3 linked regions of the Homo sapiens genome follow. The protein of the gene in region 3 purifies or fractionates together with the protein of the main gene of each other region. This does not show direct contact. Each region holds a gene or a part of one and is shown on either strand. Other genes may lie near its edges.

Region 1 (7,798 bases), on a different chromosome or scaffold from region 3:
AGAATGGGGTGTGTGTGTGTGTGTGTGTGTGTGTGTGTGTGTGTGTTTGAGAGAGTCTTGCTTCTGTCACCTGCGCTGAAGTGCAGTGGCACGATCTCGGCTCATTGCAACCTCCACCTCCCGGGTTCAAGCTATTCTCCTGCCTCAGCTTCCCAAGTAGCTGGGACTACAGGCATGCGCCACCAGGCCCAGATAATTTTTGTATTTTTTAGTAGAGACAGGGTTTCATTACATGTTGGCCAGGCTGGTTTCACTATATGGTGATCCGCCTGCCTCAGCCTCCCAAAGTGCTGGGATTACAGGCATGAGCCACTGCACCTGGCCAAGAATGTTTTAGATTAACACGTTTATTCTAAGAATTTACAAGGCTTGTCGTTGCTTTCTATCATGTTGGCTTTCTGAAGCACGGGGAGTTAACAACTATTTGATGTAATCAGGAACCCGGGGAAAATCTTTAGTTGGTTCCCTATGGCAAATGGTCAAAACAATTCCACTTGGTAAAAGCAGCTTTCCGTTTTTGTCTAGGCTTCCAAAGCCTCACATGCAACTGGTTGGCTCCACCTCTTCCTGGATACAGCACCAATTGTGGGTTACTTGGCTAGTTAGTTGTCTCAGATTCACTTTTTTTTCCAGTCATCTTCACCAGAGGTTATCTATTTGGTGTCTTAGGGCCTTCCAAGCCACACGGGGTAACTGACAAGGCTTGTCTTTAGATGCCTACTCTATCCTCCTAGTTGCCAGTTCCTATTTCTTCTAGACTCAGTTTTCATACCTATACTGTTAGGATTGAAATGTCTACTCTCAGGGCTGTTGAGAGGATTAATTGCAATGTGTTTGTAGTGTATATAGTACAGTGGCTGGCACTTAGTAGGTACTAAAAAATTATTACTGCCCCTCCCGTCCCCACCCCACCACTCAGACAAATGTAATAAATACAGATTACGTGGTAATAATTGGTAGGCAAAACTCTCATGGAATATTTTTTTTCTTTTTTTTTTTTTTAGACGGAGTCTCGCTCTTGTCACCCAGGCTGGAGTGCAATGGCTCGATCTCGGCTCACTGCAACCTCCATCTCCTGGGTTCAAGTGATTCTCCTGCCTCAGCCTCTCAAGTAGCTGGGATTACAGGTGCCTGCCACCACGCCCAGCTAATTTTTTGTATTTTTAGTAAAGACAGGATTTCACAATGTTGGCCAGGCTGGTCTCGAACTCCTGACTTCGAGTGATCTTGCCCACCTCGGCCTCCCAAAGTGCTGGGATTACAGGTGTGAGCCACCGCGCCCCGCTGGAATATTTTCGTTTTTAAAAGAGGGCTTCAAAATGATTAGTCTACCCGGGGATTCACCAGTCCGTCCCTCCATCAACCTCCCCGACTGGGGCGGAAAGTGTATGGGGCTTCTGGGCAGCGCTAGACCACAGCGGGTAGGCCACCATCTGGTCCAGAATGCAGCATAAATCTCTCCAAAAATGTGTTTAGGACTTCTGGGTATGTTTTCCAGTGCAAATGTAAAGTGGAAAAGTGTCTCAAGTGCAATAGCGGTCCTTTACCCAGTAAAAAGCATAACAAAAGTTTCAGGGTTTAAGAACCCACGTGGGAGCTGATGGAGTGGGTAGGTGGTTAATCTTCCCAAGTTTTAAAAACCACTGGTCTTAATGACCAGCAGAGAAGATTCACTTCTGGCTAAAATGATAACTGAGCCCCAGATAACTTTTAGCCATGTGAAATTCTTTCCTTTCTAGGGAGTCTCCTCAATCAGAGCCAGCTAAGGAATGTGTGTATTTCCTAGAATGTAAATGAGGGAAGAGAAACTGAGATGGAGACAGAAGGAAAGCAAGCCACTGCATTTTGAAATTCTCTAGGTAGGCAGTTGTATCGTGTCTTTTGTTTCTTTTTCCCTGGGGCAGACCACTTTTCACCTGGCCATCAGTCACCTCCCTTCCCGAGGTCTCCCGACGTGGACACCTAACGCCCTTGGAAAGGGAGTGAATTGGTAGGATATCATCGCTCCGGTTAGTTCCGCGGGAGCTGCCCTTCAGAAAAAAAACTTTCCAGAGCCAAAAGTTACTTTCCAAGCGCCTTGGGGCTTCCCGGGCGCCTCCCTCGGACGGCAACCCTAGAAGTCAAAGCGATTGCATCGCCAGGTCTGTGGCGGCTGGAAGCGGGGTGACCGCGGTCAGATGGCATTTCGCACCCACGCAGGGCTGTGTTATCCTAGCACAGAACCAGCAACTCTCACACGAAGCCTTGTGTAAACACCACGCGGGCCCATTCCTGAACGACTCTTTGATGCCTCCGCTGCGGTTACTTATCTCATACATAAATCAGGATTCCGCTGACAAATCTCCGTGTTTCCACTAAACAGAAGGCTGCCCTGCAGTCCTTCTCGTGCTTCTTTCTAAAGTACGATAACATCTGACACTTCCATAAACCGGCCTGCAGAGGACACCGCGCAGGGGGCGACTAACCAGCTGAGGTGTGTCACCCCAAAACACCAGTGGGCACACCCCAAGGCGGGCACGTGGAAGGGACGCGGAACCGAGGGCAACTATTTTCCAGTCGGTGAATCTGATGGAGAAAGATGCCAAATGCACTTCCCGAGCCAGCTGAACTCCTCGGGCACCTAATCATTGCCAGATGTGGCGAGGGCGCACGGAGAACATCCCCAGTCCCGGAGAAAACACCCGGCCGCCAGCGCGGGGACCGCTCGGGCCGGGAAACGGCTAGAGGCGGGAGGAGAGAGGACTGGGCGAGCGTGGGGAGCGCTGCGGCGTGGAAAAGCGACCGGGAGGGATGGCGATGCCTCCACTCTCCTCGGCAGGTTTTTTCAATTAAAAAGTTGGAAACGGGAATCCGTAAACAACGACTTAGGGCTTCAAACTACTTGCAAAGACGCGATGGGGAGGGGAATACTTGCGCGCTTCAAAACCCCAACCTCGAGGTCTCCAGCCGCGCCTGACCCGGGAGCCGGGTGCGCCCCCAGTGTCCGCGCACGAACCCGGCGCCCTGGCAGCCCCGACTCCCCGGGCCCGCAGCCCAAGGGAAGGTTCGCGCGGGAGGCACCTCCGTGGCCTCCCGCGCGCCCCGAAGCCCGTTCCCCCCGCCCAGAGCCCCGCGGAGCTGCCGCCGCCCTACCTTTCATGGTGACCGTGGGGACGCACCGCCGGCCGGGGAGCTCCGCGCGAGCGCCGCGCAGCCGAGGAAGTCGTCCCGAGCGGCTGCTCACCGCACGCCCATGGTAGCCGCGCCGCGCGCCGGCCGTCTGCGCCCCCGTCCTCCCTCGCCGCCGCCGGCCCGCGCTCCCCGCGCTCCCGGCTCCGCGCTCTGCTGCCTCGGGGCTGCCGCGCGCGCCGCTCTCGCTCTCCCAGCGCCCCTCCCCCTGGCCCGACCCGGCCGAGCGAGCGGCCGCGCCCACGCCCCTCTCGCGCCCTCCCGCGCCCGCCCCGCCCTCGGCCCGCGCCTGCCCTCGCCGGGCACTTTCTCGCCCGCCCTCTCCTGCGCGCCCTGGCCCCACTCGCGCGGGCTCTCTCTTTTTCCCGTTGCACCAGCGTCGGGATGAAGTCGGGAGCAAAGCCCTTCCCGGGGCGGTCCAGCGTTCACCTTCGGCGAGCACCTAAGGTGCCGCTGCTGCTGGGGTCGCTTCTACACCCCAAACTACCTAGCAAGTGTTGGGCGAGAGGATGGGGAGCTGCTGTGCCCCGGGGGTGGCGGGGGGTAAGGTGGGCCCTTCCCCAAACGGCTCTGGGGCATGGAGAGGTACAGAACGTCCTCCGGGTTCAGAGTTTCCAAGTGCGTGCGCTGGTTGACGCCTGAAGGAGACCAAGCAGCAGGGAACACTCTCTCTGTCACCCAGGGAGAGCCCGAGTGGCCAGAATCCGAAGTCACCATTAGACACTCTCTCTGCGCTCTTGGACACCTCCAGAGAAAAAGCCAGCACATCCTGCCTTGGCTGGAAAAGCCAGCCTTCCACCCAGCGCCCCTAAAATGATCGGGTTGACTCCAGTTTTGTTACGAAAGGAGGCCGGGCTGCTGAGAGGCTCCCTGAGTTCCCTTCGTGGTCGCCCGTCACATTGCCCTGCTGTATACTTAATAAAGCCCGTGTTTATCTTTCTCTTTAGAACCCCCTCTAAGCAGACCCATCGCTTTATTGCTTTAAAACATACACTAAGTGGTGAGTGGAGCTGGGGCGAGGGAGGTGCGGAGAAACTTTCTGCCACATGTTGACATTACAGATGGCTACTCAGACGCACTAGTCCACCAAAAGCAATCGAACACTGGCCGGGCAGTGCTTGCAGCTTTTCAGTTTGCCCTCCTGAGGACTTGGTAACACGGTGTAACCAATCCATTGGTTCCCTCTAAGTAGGGGATTCTTTGCTCTAGTAAAAGGTAGTGCCCCAAAATGAATACATATTGAAACATTTCATAGATTCTCCGTTCCAGGAGATTTCTTTTTTCTTTCTTTTTTTTTTTTTTTAATTTTTTAACATAAGGGGGCACCTTGAACATGACGAACAAATGAAAAGACCGAAATGCTTTTTCCCCCGCACTGTCTGCAGTTGATGAAACTACAGGGTCCTGGTCCTGGAGCATGTTTCAGATCTCACTGGGGCACCAGCCTTGTCTTTCAGGGCAAATGGGGATCCCTGAAGGGAGCTTAGGATATGAATTTTCAGCCCGGAGTTTACTAACCAATGGCGTGACCTCGGCTCACTGCAACCTCCACCTCCCGGGTTCAAGCGATTCTCCTGCCTCGGCCTCCCGAGTAGCTGGGATTACATGCGTGTGCCACCAGGCCCAGCTAATTTTTTTGTGTTTTTAGTAGAGACGGGGTTTCACTATGTTGGCCAGGCTGGTCTCGAACTCCTGACCTCGTGATCCGCCCACCTCTGCCTCCCAAAGTGTTGGGGTTACAGGCGTGAGCCACCGCGCCCGGCTTTCTTTTTTTTCTTTCTTTCTTTTTTTTTTTTTTTTTTTTTGAGACGGAATCTCACTCTGTCGCCCAGGCACAATCTTGGCTCACTACAACCTCTGCCTCCTGAATTCAAGCAATTCTCCCACCTCAGCCTCCCAAGTAGCTGGGACTACAGGGGTGGGCCACCAAGCCCAGCTAATTTTTGTATTTTTAGTAGAGACGGGGTTTCACCATGGTGGCCAGGCTGCTCGCAAACCGTACCTCAAGCGATCCGCAGGCATCAGCCTCACAAAGAGCTGGGATTACAGGCGTGAGCCACCACGCCCTGCCGAAAAAAAAAAATCGTTTTTAAAACCCAAATTATGAATATGACACCAAAAGTACAGGCAGCAAAAGAAAAAATATAGATAAATTGTACTTCATCAGACTTTTGTGCCTCAAAGGCCAGTATAAACAGAGTGGAAAGCCAACCCACAGAATAGGAGAAAATATGTGCAAAAGCCCTATATCTGATACAGGATTAATATCCAGGATATATAAAGGATTCCTGCACCTCAGCAACAACAACAAAACAGGCAACCCAATTTGAAAATGAACCAAGGACTGACATGGACATTTCTCCACAGAAGACATATAATGGCCAATAAGTACATGAAGGATATTCAATCACTAATTGTCAGGGAAATTTGAATCAACCGCAATGAGCTACTACTTCATACCCAGTAAGATGGCTATTTAAAAAAAAAAACAAAACAAAATAAGTGTTGGCGAGGATGCGGAGAAATTAGAACTTTTGTGCATTGCTGGTGGGAATGTAAAATGGTACAGCCACTATGGAAAACAGTATGGTGATTTCTCCAAAAATTAAACACACAATTACCATATAGTCCAGGAATTCTATTTCTGGGACCCAAAAGAGGTGAAAGCAGGGTAACAAATAGATGTACATCCAGGCTCATAGCAACATTACTCACAATAGCCAAAAGGTGGAACAACCTAGTGTTCACTGTTGAATGAATGGATAAACAAAATATGGTATAGCCATACAGTGGAATATGATTCAGTCTTTAAAAGGGAGGAAATTCTAACACATGCTACAACACGGATAAAACTTGAGGCATTATGCTTTGTGAAATAAGCCAGTCACAAAAGGACCAATATGATTCTACTTATAAAAGAGAGTAAAATGCCGCCAGACGTGGTGGCTCACGCCTGTAATCCCAGCAGTTTGGGAGGCCAAGGCAGGTCAATCACGAGGTCGGGAGTTTGAGACCAGCCTCGCCAACATACTGAAACCCCTGTCTCTACTAAATATACGAAAATTAGCCAGGCATGGTGGCTGGCACCTGTAGTCCCACCTACTTGGGAGGCTGAGGTGGAAGAATCGCTTGAACCCGGAGGCAGAGGTTGCAGTGAGCCGAGATCGCGCCACTGCACTCCAGCCTGGGCGACAGAGTGAGACTCCATCTCAAAAAAAAAAAAAAAAAAAGAGAGAGAGAGAGAGAGTAAAATGCATAGGGATAGAAAGTAGAATGGTGGTTGCCGGGGGGGGGATGGGGAGTTGTTTCACAGGCACAAAGATTCCATTTGGCAGGATGAAAAGAATTCTGGAGATGGATGGTGGTGATGGTTGCACAACAATGTGAATATACTTAAAGCCACTGAACTATACACTGAAAAATAGCTAAGATGATAAATATATATATTTGACTACAATAAAAAAATTCAAACAGAAGAATGATAAGGTAAAAAACAAACAAGAAACCCCTAAGGCTATGATGTCAGCTGTGATAATGAGCCAGATTCATAGATCTACTGATGAGAAAACAGGCTTAGCAACTTTTCTAAGGATAATTTTAAGGAACAGTCCTGGGACCAGGTGCGGTGGCTCATCCCGGGGCTTTGGGAAGCCAGGGAAGGAAGGTCACTTGAGGCCATGAATTCAAGACCAGCCTGGGCAACATAGTGAGACAAAAAATTTAAAAATCAGCTGGGTGTGGTGGCATGCATCTGTAGTCCCAGCTACTCATCAGGCTGAGGCAGGAGGATTGCTTAGGCCCAAGAGTTTGAGGCTGCAGTGAGCTAGGATCATGCCACTGTACTCCAGCCTGGGCAACAGAGTGAAACCCATCTCTAAAAAAAGAAGGAATCCTGGATGAGTGCCTTCCTCCCCCCACCCTGTCACCTTCAGCACAGAGTGAGTTGGGCCCCACAGGTCCTCAGTGTGGAGCCTCCTCTGAGCCCCACTCTGGAGGATATGAAGACGGAAGGTCATGGTCACATGCAGATCATCAGCTGATCAGGATTTCTCTGGTCAAGAGCTCTGGGAGGAATTGAGAATTGAGCTGGGGATCAGGGAGAAAAGAAGGGAAAAGGAAAGAAGAGAAGAATGTGATTGGAAAGGACTGAGCCATGGAGCTGAAGATGCTTTGAACTCAAAGATGGCCTGCAGGTCCTCCAGGTCACAGGCAAGCTTCCCCACCCCCAGAAGCAGCAGCCAGGCCTTGCATTCAGACTAAAGTTTCAGAATCTGGAGGAAGCATCATCTCATCTTCCCCTCACCCCAGCCCCATGCTAGTATCACCTTTATACTGATGAAAAAGCCCAATCACCCTTGACTCCTCCCTCTCCCTCAACTCTACATCCTCACCAAGCCCTGCTTCTACCTTAGAAATACATCTCAAACTTCTCTGTCTCTCCATCTCCACTGCATCCCCCATGTAGAGGCCATCATAGCCCATCTGAGCTGCTGCACTAACCTTCCAAAGGGCCTCCCCACGCCCACCTTGGCACCTTCTCCACTCCAGGCTCCAACACACAGCAGCCAGAGCAGCCACGAAGGACAGATGAGAGATGGGAAACAAACAAGCTGAACGCTGTAGTTTCTCC
Region 2 (7,855 bases), on a different chromosome or scaffold from region 3:
CCACATACAGGGCAAGACACATTGCCGTGTGCCCTACCAGCCAGCCAGCACTGCCCAGATGCCCCCTAACCTGAACACAGCAGGCTGCAAATGAGGCAGTCCAGGGCAGGTTCAGTTTTCACCACTCACCCAAGTAGGCCTGTTCATGTTTTCATCCATTTTAGGTAGCCTGGGATAAATTAAACACTGAAAAACTTTGAAGGTTTGACTCTTTCCTTCTTGCAAGGTGGAAATCTTGGTCACAGTGTGTAAAAGGGTGGAATTGTCCTTAAGAATATAAAAATGGTAGGATGAACGCTAAGATGGTAATCCTTAACACCTCAAGTATTTGGTAATGGTACACACCTGATACTAGGCTTATCTAAACGCACTAAAGAAACAGGCCTTCTGCAGTCAAAAGGTGATGCTTTTGTCACGCAACTTTTGAGGGTCAGGGTACAAATAAGAACAGACATGGATGGAGGTAATATAGAGAAGGGAGGAGTTGTTAAACAGGATCCAAGTTGCAGTGGAGGTGAATTCCACATTCAGAACAATACTAAATCCTTAAGTTTCAAGTTTACAGCTACTGAAACCCACTGAAGAGGTAACACTGCCCATTTCTGGAGCCAGTCAGGGCTTTCAGCAACCTCTCAAGGCTCAGAAGTGGAGACTGGAACGTCCACAATCTAAATTTCACACACTTTTTGTGGAAAAAGTTACAATAGATGAACAATAAGGACATATGCATTGTAGGCTTGGCCCTACACCAAAAAAAAAAAAAAAAAGTTTACTGGCCCAGATACAGAGATGTGTTGGTGTACCAAAAACACTCACAGCTATATGGAGACAGCAGAGCCTGGAAAAGAACCAGGTCCTGAGGTTTTGCAGTTAAAAGTTATGATGGGGATAAGAAAAAAATTGTTGGCTCATTTCTGAAATGTTTGCTCATCTTTTACCAAAAATGTCATTTACATATTAGGAAACTGATTGGGAAGACTTTGGTTAAGATAAAGCCAAAGTAAATTTTGGTCCATCTTGACCTTGAACCAGTTTGGAAATCTGAACAAGAGTTTTTGGATTATTTGGGGTTTTTTTTTTTTTTTTTTTTTTTGGTGTATGGGAGGGCATAGCAAAGACACGGCAGTGTGTGAACGGGAAGTATAGCACAAGCTGAGGAAGTCTGGCATTTGAAAAGTATCGCCTTTAAACATGCACGTATAAATTCCTGCCTGTAAAAGAAAGAAAAAATTTTAAGATGCATTTATAAGTTTTAGATAATCTGGTTATATTTTATAAATCTATATATAAGTATAGATGTTTACTAATCTAGATTTGTTTCAAAACTCAATCTCTGCATTTGAATCAAAAATAAACTTTTACGGCTGAGTAGCAGGTGAAATGATGGGGAAACCAGGAAACAGAAACTGCTAATTCGATTAATAATAAGCCAGTCACACGATTTCTAAACTGCCTCTAATCCAAAAAACCTCTACCTTTTCTAATCTCATACTGATTATTCTACGAGATGACAAACTCTCAATATGACCTCCTCCTATCCTCAACAATTCTTGAAGGAAAAGAAAAAGAAACTTCTAAGGAAATTTTTTAAATGCTGAATTTCTCTGGCATTGAGCCATGTGTAGATTAAACATCACTTAATCCTCCAACAGCTCTAAGGCAGTGGTTTACAAGCTACAGCGTACATTACAATCACCTGGAGGACTTGTTTTAGAGATTGTTGGGCTCCACCCCCAGAGTCTCCGATTCAGTAATGGGGGAACGCCCACCCAGGTGGTGATGCTGCTGCTGCTGCGGCAGGTGGGGGCACTCTGAGAAGCGCTGCACTAAGGTAATATTAACGTGTGGCCCTCGTTCTGGGAAACGCGTGCTGTCTGCAGCAGAAATTGCCAAGATTTTGAAAACTTTTATAGCAGTTTACCATTACATGGCATCGAAGCACGTGAACATTTTTCTAGTATTTCACCCTTATTGTATTTTCCCAAAGTACTGATGTGAGAACGACTAGAAAGTTGTCCAAGTTTGTGGAGCATCGCTTTAAGCTGACCCAGCATACGGCAGCCCCTGCCCCTGGGGACAGCGGGGCCGACCTAGGGCACGAGGGGTGACTAGGGGTGACTCAGCCAGAACACTGGCCTGAGACGCAGTTCCACACTTAAGGTTTTCATCGTCTCGTCTCATTCCGGCATTTCCCGGGACAACACTCGCACCAGCCCCGCTGCAGGTGCCCTGGGTCCCGGCGGCCGGCGCAGAGGAGACAAGAAAGGAGGGCGCAGGCACAGCGCCGCGGGCGCCCGCGAGCAAGGCCAGACCCCAGCGGCACATTTCCTGCCCAAAACTTGGGGCCGCGACGGTATGCACTCCGGGTAAGTGAGACCGATGCACTAGATTCCTTCAGAATGCCCAGTTTGGCTCCAGAAGATGACGAGCCAAACAAAGACAAAGGGACGTCAGTGGACCCCAGCGTCTCCCCGGCCACTGCCGGCGCCCCTTCGCGCCTGCGCAGACCCCCACCCCGCGACCCGCCCGAGGCCAGCCCACGGCTTCCTTCCGGGCAGCGGGCGCGCTGCCGCCGGGCAAAGGCGCGCATGCGCAGCGTCGCCGCCCGCGCCTTCCGTGTGGCCAGTGCTTACCCGCTACAGGGGTCTGTTCCTTCCGGCCCGGCAAGGCCTCCTGGGGGCTGACGATGTTCGAGGCCGAGTTGCCCATCCTCGGGACGGGAAAGAGGCTGTGGAGGAGGAGGAGCTGGCAAGCCCTCCGGGTGGCCGAGAGCATGGGAGGGCGCCAGCCGAAGGGTGGTCCCGGGGGACGGCGCTACCGGCAGCGGAGCCGCAGCCGGAACGGCAGAGAGTGGGGTCCGCGGCCGGAACCGGGGGGCGGCAGGGGCGCGGGCGGGCGGGCGCGGGGCGCTGCTGGCGGGGCTGGAGGCCGCCCGTAATCGAGGTTGCCCAAACCCGGGGCCGTACCGGCTGTCACCGGGGGCGTGTTCCTTCCCTGGACAGGGGGTGTGGCCCGGCGAGTTCCTGAGGTTCTCTCGGGACGAAGTTCTCGGACAGAGAACAAGTGCGCTCCTGTCGTACGAAGTACGTGAAGCTGCAGAGGCCAAAAAACACGCCGAGCCCTTGGGGATGCGGTTTGATTTTAAAGTTGCTGCCGTGTCGCCCCGACTTCGCAGTTTAGCAGTGCCCAGTAAGATAGAAGAGGACCTGCCTTGCAGCCAGCTAGACTGTCAGTTTTTATTGGAGACATTGTCATGACGGCCATCAGAAGGGTTGCTATTCGTCCAAAGTGAAAACTAAGCACAGTTCTCAAAATGCGCGGAATAGGGAAGATGAATTCAATATTAAGTTATGTATTTACAAACATATTTAAGCCCATTTTGCAGCGGCCAAAATACGGGAGCAAGGCACCAACAGCACCATTAAGGCAGTGTAGGTGGACTTAATGGTGGTGTTGTATTATTCTTGTTTCTCAAATCATAGGAGATGACATTTGTTCCTGTGACATTCTCAAACTAAATGTAAAGTGGTTGGAGCGAGGTGAGTGACTTGGGAGTTCATCTGTGTGAGATTTTGGCTTAACACATGTTCTGCCAAAATGGGCAGGTCGTCTCAGATGAGGGAGGGAACTTCAGATTAGCACCCACAGAAAGGAGGCTTTCACCCAGCTTCTTGCATGGATTTAGTTACCACTTTGTTTTCATGTGGTCTGGACTGTAAGGAGGGCAGGAGGCTTAGCAGTGCTATAGTGTAGAATGAGGTGTGTTGCCAGGCATACAACACTAAAAAGGCTCTAGCTTTGATTTTGTAATTTGTATTTCCCCTGGACAAAATGATACCTAAACTGTTTGTTATTGCTATGAGGCTATACCAAGTCGGTTCCACAGGCCTTTCATGAAAACACCCCCAGGAGTCCCTTCTAGGCTTGCGAAGGCCTGGTCACTATTAAGGGTCTGAAAAAATAGTCATTCTGTCAAAGACAATATTTTGTGTTTTTCAGTTACTTCTTTTTGATACATACTGATTTGTCTGTGTTTTGTGGTTGATTGTATGAAGTTTCACATGCTAGAAATACTCTGCAACTAAGAGCTGAAGAATGTTTAGTGTGAAGAAATAACTTACTTGGCATGATGGCTCACTCCTGTAATCCCAACACTTTGAGAGGCTGAGGCAGGAGGATTGCTGGAGGCCAGGAGTTTGAGACGCCATCTTTACCAAAAAAAAAAAAAAAAAAGGTATTTAAGTAGTTGGGCATGGTGGTGTGGTAGCGCACACCTGTGGTCCCAACTACTTGGGAGGCTGCACCAGGAGGAACGCTGGAGCCAGAGAGGTAGAGGCTGCAGTGAGCTATGATCACACTGCTGTGCTCCAGCCCGGGCAACAGAGCAAGACCTTGTCTCAAAAAAAAAAAATTAATTTTGATGTTAAATGAAAAAGTAAAACAAATGCAGTGTGCGTGTATACATGTAGTATATATGAAAATGCATGTACTCCCAGTTGCACAGCCACTGAACAATTCGAAAAAAATGCAATTTTTTTTGTTCAGAATAGTGGGATTCTACTGCTTTTCATTGTCTTTAAACTGTTTTAAGTGTTCTGTATTGTTACAACGTTCTCGAGTATTCCAATGGCTGTTACTTTTATAATTATAAAAGAATAAGCATTTTTAAAGAACAGATATATCTTATTTCAAAAACAAGGGTTTTTCGTTTACCAGAATAGCTGCAAGAAAAGTTATATTAGTTTCTTTGGTGTTTTGAGGAAAGAATTGAACATTTTTGCCTTCAGTGGTGCCTTTTTCACCACTAGGACTTCCTTTTCTTCAGACATTCCCCCTAATCCAGCGGTCCCCCACCTTTTTGGCACCGTGGACGAGTTTCGTGGAAGACAGTTTTTTTCCACAGATGGGGAAGGGGAGATGGGGGATGGTTTCGGGGTGAAACTGTTCCACCTCAGATCATCAGGCATTAGTTAGCTTCTCATGAGGTGTGTGCAGCCTAGATCCCTCACATGCACAGTTCACGATAGGGTTTGTCCTCTGATGAGAATCTAATGTCGCTGTTGATCTGACAGCCACATCTAACTTGGGAAGGTGGGAGATGAGGTTCTCTTGCGGAGTGACTATAGATACAACTAATACTTGGATATTTGGCAGTTCTAATAATAAAACAGGAATGTTCTTTGGACAACTGTGACACAATCTACTCCTCTGGCCCCTCAAATATCCATGGATACCCTTGTGACACATAGAACACACCCTGTTTGAAGAGAGAAAACCCAGCATTCTAAGCAGTTACTGCATCCAGCTCAGCGTCCATGATCTAAAGATGTAACAGTCCCTTACAAGTCTGATATAACTCCTCATGGTCCAATGACCTACAGAGTAAATTATGTTATTTATTCCCCTTTCTCTTCCCCACACAGCCAGTATGCAGTGGTGAAGTAGGGCACGAAAACTAATTTGGAAGAAGAGTGAGGACAAAATAGTAGTTCTTTGTCTAAGCGAATGTGAAGAGCAGATTAGACTACAAAGGTAATGAAGTAAATTCTTGGTTAGACCCCAGTTCTGTTTTCCAGGAGGAACTCTGGTTTGTTGCATCCAAAGGTACTGTCTTTACCCATTGGGAGGTTCTTACCCATGATCTATGATTCCATCTGAAGGGCATGCTAAAGAGTGTGCTCCATGAGAGGCTACACATCTTTTTATATCCAGTTTCTTACTGGTGCGCTTTTGAGGGACTGTGGGTTACTTTAGTAGGGTCAGATAGACACAGGCATTGGCAAGCTAGGCTTAATAGCTTCTTTGTCAATTCAATTTTTAAAAGATACCGAATGGATTTCTTATCTGTTTGTTCCTTGTATAGTTCCTTTTACAAATAACCACAGATAGAGATCTCAATTAGTCATATTTCTTATGCCTAACTACTCTTCATTTTTATTTACGAGACTCTCTCATATCTCCTGTACCTACTAACTTAGTGGCTATATGCTTGCACCCAGCAAAAACAGCAGTCATGGTTAGGAAGGCAGTGCCCTTAATATGACCTCTATTGCTTGTCTGGGTTCCACTGTCCAGCAGAGAACACTTTGCTGATGGCCTTTGAGAAGTGCCTTGGGTCACAGTTTTATCTTACACTGTCAGAAGTGTAATAGCTTTTGGCTTTATCAGAACTAGAAGGCTTGAAATCACCACTCAGTCAATTTGTATTGCAGACTACAGGCAGAGAACTCCATCTTAGTATGACTTTATTTCCTTCCAGCTCTGTTAACAAAATGACTAGTTTTTACCTGAGTTCATCTTTCTCAAAGTACTTTGCTAAAGAGACAGGAAGAAGGCAGTACTGTCTCACTGACCCAGAGATTCACTCCCAACCATTTTCCCTGCTACTACAGATTCAAAGAGCAGGTAGTCTGCCTGCTAAGGTACTGAGTTGACAATTTTATCAAATGTCTTGTGGCGGGGGAAAAAAAAAAGGAGGGGCTTGGTCACCAGCTTTTCACCTGTAATACCTGTGCTGCCTGTCAGTTAATTAATACCACATAATTTAGGTTAATGTCATGGTCTCTACAGAAAATCTGGAGCTAATACTGGTTTAGCAACATTGCAGCTACAAAATCTATATGCAAAAATCGTATTTCTATAAGACAAAATAATGGAAATCAAAATTTTAAAAATACTACTTATTTATTAACATCAAAAATATTTAAAATTTGTATCTGACTGAAGATATGTTAGACCTGCACATCAAAACCGCAAAACATTGCTAAGAGAAATGTAAAAGACCTAAATAAATGTGGAGCTATACCATGTAGGTGGATCCGAAGCCTCAGTATTGTTAAATGCCAGTGCTCTCCAAAATGACCTATAGATTCAACACTGTCTCAATGAAAATTCCAGCAGGTTTTTTAGTAGAAATTGGCAAGCTTATTCTAAAACTCAGATGCAAATGCAGAGGACCTACTACAGCCAAAAACTGAGAAGTCCAGTTCCAGTCCAAAATCACGGCTGACCATGGCAATTGTAAAGGCTTTGCCTAGCAGACCTTAGAGGGGAAAGCTGCCCTACTCACACCAGATGTAGAGCACAGGCAGTGAACTGCAGTCTCTGAAGGAAGTTGCAGTCAAGGACTCAGGCCTTACCCCAGGCCAGCCATGCTTATCATTATATCTGCATTTTGAGCCCAGAAACCTTCATTTGGAGGCCTCTGTATTGGGGGACAGGGTGCAGGAGAGTTGTTAAGACATTTCTCCACTTTGAGTCAGTACTCATAGGTCTTCCCATCCTCCCTCCCTCCACCTCCATAGGACAGCAGGAGGCTACCTGAGTTCAAGATTTGCTATAAAGCTATGATATCCAGGAAAGTGTGGTGTTGACCACAAGAGACATAGGTTAATGGAACAAAACAGTTAAAAAAAAAAAAAAAAAAAACCTTGCACACACATGGTCAGTTTATTTTCAACCAAGGTGCAAAGGCAGTTCAGTGGCTTCTAAACTTCAAAACTCTTCTGTTGTTTCTAAACTGCCCAGTCTGTGGGACTCTTTTATAGCAGCCTGATAGACTGAGACAGTGAGAAATGGAGCTTTTATTGTGTGTAAGCCACTAGGGTTTTGAGTGGCTCAATGGTTCTTAGACATCGGCATACACCAGAATCACATGGAGGGTTTATTAAAACAGATTGCCTGGTCCCATCCTAGAGTTTCTGATCAAGTAGTTTGAGTTAGCCCTGAAACTTTGCATTTCTGACAAATTCCTAGGTGATGCTGACGCTGCTGGTCCAGGCAGCAAACTTTGAGATTTATTGTTCTGGTGGAACCCACACCCAATATCCTGGCCCTCAATAAACATGCCTCTAGA
Region 3 (8,553 bases):
GGTGTTGAGGCACCTTCACTGTTGGAGATTCATAGGTATTAAGCCACAAAGCGGGGAGAAGTGGTGGGTGCCAACACAGGATTGGCTCAAGGAAGTCTCATCATATCTGTCTCTCCTGGGCGATGTGCTCATATGTGTGCATGCACGTGTATGCAAACACACACAAACACATACACATACACACAGTGCTATCTTCACAGCCACACTTTTTTGTTAACACTAAAATGTAACTTTTACTTGCAGGGGAGATGGAAACCATTCTCTCCAGGCAGAGTCCCCACGTCTTTCCCCTTATACTTGTTTATTCAGAGAATGGTGACCCCAGACCAGTCCGGCTTCAGCAAGACAATCTCAGGAGTATGTGAGGCCATATTTCTAATGACCCTAAGTTCCCATTTGTTTCCCATAGTATCAAAGAAAGAACAGAAGCGTTTGTCTCAATTTCAGATTCTCCTATATCATTCTCAAGATAATTGCATTTTCTAGACAGAAATAATCCACCTTTGTAGGTGAAGGTACAAGACTAACTAGCCCACAAGCATCATTACTAGCCTTTTTACCCCTACAAGCCTCCTTGCTTATGGAACAAAAGAACCAAATCAATACAGTCAATATGTCACTTCCAGCAGGGCATGAGTGGCTACCAGCCTTGGGGAGCATGACGTGCTACTAGGCTGAACTAATCACTCCTTGGCATTTCAGGAGCACTTAGGTTAACAGATCACAGCACATGCATAATGAAAGACAATAACTCACCCAGAGGGGAGGGCAGGAGGGAAACACTGAGTTGACCCCCATAGAGGGACAGTTAGTATTTACATAAGTCAACCTGAAGCCATATTGGTGATTCCTTAAAAGGGCCAAAAATTTTAGAAAGAAGAAAAGCCCAGGAAGATCCTGGGGGAGAGGAGATTGGATTGCATCCTTAATTTCAGCAAAGATTTAATCAGGGGGATGGTCTTTCTACCAAGAGTCTCACACTTGAAGAATTTAACAGGTATAACAGCAGGAGACAAAGGGTGAGATTAAATACCTTAATTTTATAAATTTCAAATGTATGAAATTTAGGAATATTTAAGATATCAGCAAATGGTTGCCAAGGTACATGATTCTTTTAACTCTTAGAAATGCATTTTTATATCTTCAAGGGATTTTCTCAGATAGAATACCTGCTACCAATTTTATGTAAAATAAACTTGATTTCCATTTTCAAAATAAAATAAATGTATACAGACTCTCTAAGGAGTCTCAACTTTTTGGGAGGTAATTTGCTAATTCAGTGTACACATGAATCACTCAGAAACATTGTTAAAATATAAATTTCCTGGGCCTCCGCTTGAGATTCTCATTCAGCAGTTTTTCAAGGAAGAAGCAAAAATACGCATTTTTAACCAGCTTCTCAGGGAATTCATTAAAAAGAAAAAAACCCTTAGAGAAATGCTGCCCGGACTTCTACAACAAATCAGAACCTCTCCACTTTCTGGGCACCTCAGGCTGTGCAGGGAAGGTAGAAGGAACTCAATGATCTTTAAGAGCTGGGACTACCCTGGCCCTCATTTGGTTCTAGGTCTAACCCTCCCAAACCACTTCCTTGTCAGATGTCTGCATTCAGAGATGGCATCAAAACCCCCTGCAACAAATAATCCAGGAATTTTGAACACTAAGGAGGGAAGTCCAAGGCAGGGACTGAAACCCAGGAAAGCAGCTTGCTGATTTTCTTGAAACTGGTCATGCTGACCACAGTCTCTCTATCTGGCCACCCTCATCAAACAGCTGCATGAGGGAAAGACGATAAGCATGATTTCTTTTTCAAGTGGTCCTAATGCTGCAGGATGAATCAGAGATAAGCATGCATATTTGCATTTGAAGCAGGGTGGGAGTGGGGAGAATCGTTGAACATCTAGCTCCCTAAGGAGGAGCAAGGATTGGCCTAAAAGGTTTGTAGCCTGGTCAAAATACAGAAAGGCTTGGATCTGCAGAAGGATCTGGAGTGGGATCCACAAAGTGCCTTGCACCTCACTCCCTCACCCCCTCACCCAACCTCAAGAGCCACCGAAAAAAAAGTAGTGGGGTGTCAGGTGGGGCAACAGTGACTTGCTCAGACAGCTTCCTTGTGGCTGAGAGCAAGCGCCTGTCCCCACGGAGCTGCACTGCTGTGACTTGTGTCCATGGTGAAGCCTGTTATGTAGACGCACACGCACCCTCTTACCTCTGCTCTTCAAGAGGAAGCACTCAAGGGCTGCCCGCCTCAGACAGGGATAGGGAAGCGCTCTGTCTGGTGCTTAGAGGTGTCTCTTGTCTCCGCATACCACCCTAGAGGGGCTCTCGGTCCATCATAGAGCCGGGCCGAGAGCCGGGCGGTCACCCTCCGCTACTGCCGCCACCGTCGCCTGCACTGCCGGGTAGAAACGGGTCTGGCACCCAAGCCTCCCTCCCCGACTAGGTGTCAACCCAAGAGAAGGCGAAGGAGAACGAAAGTTCAGGACCAAGGACAGCGGCAACCGTGGGAGCGGGAGAATCCAGCCAGAATCTGCCTCTCCCCCATCCTTAGCTTCTGCCTTAGAAACTGAAAAGGGTCAGGTCGCACCAACACAGAGTTGCCAAAAACAGCCCTTCTTCCTCCGGAAGAAGTCGGAAACTCTGGCCGCGAGCCCCGGGTCTCGCGCTTGGGTGCTGGGGGAAGTGCCCTCCCGAGATTGTGGGGAGCGGCCTCCCTCCCGCCCTCCGATGCCGCGGCTCCGCCGTGCTGCCCTGGGCGCCCCGCGGGGAGGCTGCCCCAGCTGCGCCCGCTCGTGCTCGGGGAGAGGATTCCCTTCTAAGTGGCGAGGAGGCTACTGAGAAGGAGGGAGAGGGGATAGCAGCCGCGGGCTCCAGACGCCCTCTGCCCCCGCCCGACGGGGAGCCCATGCAGAGCCGGATCCCAGGCGGGCGCTCCCGAGCAGGCGGCCAGGAGTGGCCGCACAAACTTCTGGTCCTGGCCTCGCTCCCCTTGGAGGTCCCTCCTCCTCTCCCCGTGACACTGAGTCGCCCGCCGCTCCATCCGGCCGGTGCTTACCTTCAAGCCATAGGGCGCCCGGGGGCAGAGACGGCGCCGGCTGCTTGAGGCTTCCAGCTCCCGCCGCATCCACGCGCGGCCGCCCCTCCGGCAGCCGTCCGGGGCCGCCACTCTCCTCGGCCGGTCCCTGGCTCCCGGCCCCGCCGCGCCGTTCAGAGCCCCGGCGGGCAGCAGCTCGGCCGGCTCTGGCCCGCGGGGAGCAGTGGACGGGCCGCGGCGGGGCGGGGCGGGGCGGGGCCGGGCGCGGGGCGGGCGGGCAGGAGGGAGCGCGGGGACGGGGCGGAGGCGGCGCGGTGCGCGCGTGAGGCTGCCGGTTCGGCACTGAAGCTGGACAGCTCTGCGGCGCCCGAGCGCGGGGAGCGCGGGAGGGAGGTGCCCCGGTCCCCGCCCCTGAGACAGGCCCCGCCCCCGCCCCCCACCAAAGGAGCTGTACCTCCTCGGCGATCCCCGGCCTGAACGGGTAGGAGGGGTTGGGGGATTCCGCCATCCCTTGTTTTGAGGCGGGAACGCAACCCTCGACCGCCCACTGCGCTCCCACCCACACCCAGAGTAATAAGCTGTGATTGCAGGCTGGGTCCTCACCGTCTGCTCGCCAGTCTTCTCCTTTGAGGACTCAGAAGCCAAGGGTTGCGGGAGGCACCACCCATCCAGCAAGTCAGGCAAGGAGAGGAGGTGTTGGAAGAGGTCCGCATCCGTTTTCTGACTTCAGGTCTTGGAATCTATGTAGTCAGTTCTATTGCTGGACTCATCCAAAGGAAAAAGCCTGTTTGGAGTTGACCTGACATGGAAATGCAAAAGGAGGCCTCAGGGGTTCCAGCTCACCCTTGACTCCAAACTGAGGTGTGTGAGGCAGGGAGTGGGGAGAGGGAGAAAGAGATAGAGTGGTGAAGGGTGTTCCGCTGCTACCCTGCCCACTGTCATTTGGGCTGCAGAGGAACCTCGTTCTTCTCCCCTTTTCTTCCTCTCTCCTTTTCTTTCTTTTCTTTTCTTTTCTTTCTTTCTTTCTTTCTTTCTTTCTTTCTTTCTTTCTTTCTTTCTTTCTTTCTCTTTCTTTCTTTCCTTTCTTTCTTTCTTTCTTCCTTCCTTTCTTTTTCTTTCTTTCTCTTTCTTTTCTTTCTTCTGCAGCAATTAGTTACCAACTGTCCTCAGTTTGCCAGATTCTGTGTCAGATTCAGAAGTCACACACAGAAAGAAAACCAGGCCCCTGATCCCGCACCCTGGCAATCCAGAGAGGGGACCCCCAGGGAAATAACTGAGGCTTAAACAGGTGCTGTGAAGCACAAAAAAGCGAGACTTTACAGGAACCGGGCATTGAAGGAGCAACACCAGTTCCCAAGGGGAGAAGGTGGCACAACACTCCAGGGAGAGGGAAGAGCAGGGGCAGAGGACTGACTCTGCAGAGCAGGGAGTCGGCCCTGCATGGCTGGAATCCAGCCTCTCTGGGCCACAAGGATTAACTTCATCTCAGCATTTCCTCCAATGACACACACAATTATAGAAAGTGAGGGCTGGAAAGGACCTTAACATTCATCCAATTCCGCCTCACCTCAGAAGGGAGAACTGAGTCCCAGAGAGATGGAGTGTCCTTGCAAATCCCACAGAGTCCAGCACTGAACCGTCCCCCTCTCCAGAGGCACAAAACAGCACCTCTCTCAAATGCAGCCATCTCTGGAGGCACGGGAGCAGAGGAAGCTGTGGGCTCCCCACCTCACCCCACCATGACTCTTCCCAGCTCCTGCCCCTGGATCTTGCTGATCTGGACTGGCCTCCATTTGCCTGCAGGCTCTATAGGGAGATATTACACCAATAGGAGTCCTAGAATGTTGCCATAATTGCCTTTAAGGGATCAGCCATTACAGATATGGTTGACATCCCAGTGTTTCCCTTGTATACCCTTGGACCATTCTTTCCTAGGTTTAATCCACATAAGGAGATATTTGGTACCTCCCAACTCAGCACCTCTACATAGGTTCAGGGATGGGTCAGACTAGCCAGAGCACCTGGATTGGTGTCCCGCCTTGGTCACCTACCTGTTGTGTGGGCTTGCCTAAATTGCTTGATCTCGCGAAGTCTCAGTTTCTCCATTTTTAAGTGGGGACTAAAAATAACGATCTCTGAGCTTTACTGAGAAAAATAGATGAGGACATGTTAGACAATGGTAATATGGGCCATCTCTGGCTGCTCTGGGGTGGGGAGGGGAGCCCTGTTCATCAGGAGGCAGAAGCAGGAAGAAGATGAGCTCCATAAGGTGCACCCACCCAAGGACACTGTAGCTCTGCGCTGCCTTTTTTACCCCAATCTTACATGGCTGAGTGGATTTCATGCTGGCTGTGAGTGAGACGGATGGATCTTTTAGTTTTCAATTAGCAAACGCCTCACTCTTTAAACAAGCGGCACAGCAAACAGATGCACTGTGTGATTGATGACAGGGAACATCTGCGGCCAAGCAGCGGCTGCACCAGAGGCTCCCAGCTTCCTGGGCTAGCAGGGCCCTCTGGAGGTCGTTTGGTGCCTCCCCCTGCCTCTAGGCAGGAGTGTGCCCAGTCCAAGTGGGCGGGGTGGGGGCAGGGTGTCCCTTTGCCTTATAGCTTTCCTGAAAAAGGATCTACAACAGCCTCTTTGAATTCTTTACCTCCTTGGAGTCAGGAAGTTCCACCTGATGTACCTCCTAAATCTTTCATTTATTTCTACCCTTTTCATTGTTGAAAGTTGTAAGGAAATAAGTAGTAGTGGGTATTAGGGGTTGTCTTAGTCCATCTGGGATGCTATTAATATAACAAAATACTGTAAACTGTGTGGTTTACAAACAGAATTTATTTCTCACAGTTCTGGAGGCTGGGAAGTCCAATATTAAGGTGCTGGCAGAGTTGGCGTCTGGTGAGAGCCAGCTTTCTGTTTCATAGATGGTACTTTCTCACTGTGTTCACACATGGTGGAAGGGGTGGATGAGTGCTCTTGGGCCTCTTTTACAAGGGGACTCATCCATCCTATTTATGAGGGCTGTGTCTTCTTCTGTCCTCATGACCTCCTCACTGCCCAAAGGCCTCACTTTCCCTTTGTTTTGTTTTGTGTTTTGTTTTGTTTTGTTTTGTTTTTACAGAGTTTTGCTCTTGTTGCCTAGGCTAGAGTGCAGTGGTGCTATCTTGGCTCACCGCAACCTCCGCCTCCCGGGTTCAAGTGATTCTTCTGCCTCAGCCTCCCGAGTAGCTGGGATTACAAGTATGCGCCACCATACCCAGCTAATTTTGTATTTTCAGTAGAGATGGGGTTTCTCCATTTTGCTCAGGCTGGTCTCGAACTCCTGACCTCAGGTGATCCGCCTGCCTTGGCCTCTCAAAGTGCTGGGATTACAGGCTCACTTTCTAATTTTATAATCCTGGGGCTTAGGATTTCAACATATGAATTGGGGGGAGCAAAGACATTCAGGCAGGGCTAGGAAATGAGTTAGGGACAGATGGGGGTTTTGTTGGCCCATTGTAAGAGAAACAAAGGAGAAAGCCAACAGAGAATAAGGGAGAGCTAGAACTTCCTCCCGAGCTCCAAGAACTGCTCGCTGCAGCTTAGAAAGAGGGGGGACCCTTGCTGATCTCCTTCAAACTCTGATGTACCCCCAGAGAGAACAGACTGTCACAGTCCCCTTCTAAAAATCATCTCACAGAAAACAAGGGAAATGCTCTCATCTGAAAGGTGGGGAAGGCAGAGCGGGGTCATGTCAGTAGCAACACTGGAGTCACACAGAAGTTTGTTCCCATCTAAACTCCACAACCTTGGGAAATTCTGAATGGCTCCGGGGCTCAGTTTTCTGGATTGTGAAATGGGGATGGAGAGCCACATTGCAGTGCTATCATGAAGAATAAGTGGGAACGACAGCCCACACATATTGATATTCCATGGGTCTTCCCCCCTTACAGAAAACTTCAACTGGAGAAGTGACGCAGGAAATATAGACATCTTCTATATGGTGTTACAGTTCTCCATTTCTTAACCCACTTTGTAGATAAAAACTGAGCCCCCATTTCCAAGCTCTTGGAATTTCTCTTTTCTCATCCTCTTCTTTTGTCTTAGTTCTTGTGCCATTTGCAAATGACTTGGGGAGCAGTAGAACATCAATCTATCTGGGTCAAAGGAAGTATGGGGCAAAAAAAAATCATCTCTTTTGTACTTTATTACATCCCTCAAATGCAGAAAACCTTAGAGAGGTGTGGAATTCTTGGATATTGTTGTTATTGAGGGATCTACAGCCCCATGTAGGATAATCTAGGGAAGGGACTGAAGGTAGTCGAGATGGTAGACCCCAGAGAAGGGTGGGCAAGGGGAGAATCTTCTGAGAAGGACAGAAGTTCAGGGCACTGTCCAACCAAGGCAGGAGAGCAGAGAGTTACCTGAGGGTTTTGACATCTGCGTGTGTAATCACCCTTAGAAAATGATTTCCTCACTGGTAGACTCTAATGGGCCTTTCCACCTGGGTGTGAAATGGACATTTGTTCTTTGCTGCCTCCTATTTTGAAAGAGTAAAGAGAATACAGGGATGACTCACTTTAAGAAATTCTGTTACACAGTTCTTCAGAGTTACAGAACAGATAACTCAGAGTGCAATTATTCATATTAGAAATTTAATTGCTTGATGGGAAGAGGTCATAAAAATATACACCTCATTTCCACACCTATGTTCATAGCAGCACTATGCACAATAGCCAAAAGGTGGAAACAAGCCATGTGTCCATCAACATGGATAAACAAGATGTGGTATTTACATGCAAAGGAATATTATTAGGTCTTAACAAAGGAGAGAAATTCTCACACCTGCTACCTCATGGAATCTCGAAGACATTGTGCCAAGTGAAATAAGCCAGTTACAAAAGGACATATACTGTACAATGCCACTTATATGAGGTATCTAGAGTCAATCTACAGAGACAGAGAGTGAATTGGTGGTGGCCAGAGGCTGGAGGCAGGGACAAATGGGGACATATTTGATGGGTATGGGGTTTCGGTATGAGAACATGAAGAATGTTCTAAAGTGGAGTGGTGGTGATGCTTACACAACAATATGAATGTACTTAATGCTACTGAACTATGCACTTAAAATGCGTGGTGGTTCACGCCTGTAATCCCGGTACTTTGGAAGATCGAGGCTGGCTCTAAAGTGGAGCGGTAGTGATGCTTACACAACATGAATGTACTTAATCCTACTGAACTATGCACTTAAAATGCGCAGTGGCTCATACTTGTAATCCCAGCACTTTGGAAGGCCGAGGTGGGTGGATCACCTGAGGTCAGGAGTTCGAGACCAGCCTGGCCAACATGGTGAAACCCCATCTCCACTAAAAATAAATTAGCCGGGCATGGTGGTGGGCTCCTGTAATCCCAGCTAGTTGGGAGGCTGAGGCAGGAGGATCACTTGAACCGGGAAGTGGAGGTTGCAGTGAGCCGAGACTGTGCCATTGCACTTCAGCCTGGGCAACAAGAGTGAAATTCTGTCACAAAAAAAAAAAAAA

The links.
Region 1: the proteins of DRD2 (region 3) and COLEC12 purify together in Homo sapiens (affinity purification with mass spectrometry; 2 studies listed by BioGRID and IntAct, with this or other methods). This does not show direct contact.
Region 2: the proteins of DRD2 (region 3) and MSRA purify together in Homo sapiens (affinity purification with mass spectrometry; 2 studies listed by BioGRID and IntAct, with this or other methods). This does not show direct contact.

The regions. Positions count from the first base shown.
Region 1 is NC_000018.10:497,376-505,173, forward strand, and holds the start of COLEC12 (collectin-12), read right to left. Parts: upstream 3,327-7,798; 5' UTR 3,140-3,326; coding exon 3,133-3,139; intron 1-3,132. UniProt on the Homo sapiens protein: Scavenger receptor that displays several functions associated with host defense. Promotes binding and phagocytosis of Gram-positive, Gram-negative bacteria and yeast.
Region 2 is NC_000008.11:10,049,437-10,057,291, reverse strand, and holds the start of MSRA (mitochondrial peptide methionine sulfoxide reductase isoform a precursor), read right to left. Parts: upstream 3,001-7,855; 5' UTR 2,776-3,000; coding exon 2,634-2,775; intron 1-2,633. UniProt on the Homo sapiens protein: Has an important function as a repair enzyme for proteins that have been inactivated by oxidation. Catalyzes the reversible oxidation-reduction of methionine sulfoxide in proteins to methionine.
Region 3 is NC_000011.10:113,472,021-113,480,573, forward strand, and holds the start of DRD2 (D(2) dopamine receptor), read right to left. Parts: upstream 3,379-8,553; 5' UTR 3,056-3,378; intron 2,717-3,055; exon of another isoform or gene 2,210-2,716; intron 1-2,209. UniProt on the Homo sapiens protein: Dopamine receptor whose activity is mediated by G proteins which inhibit adenylyl cyclase. Positively regulates postnatal regression of retinal hyaloid vessels via suppression of VEGFR2/KDR activity, downstream of OPN5.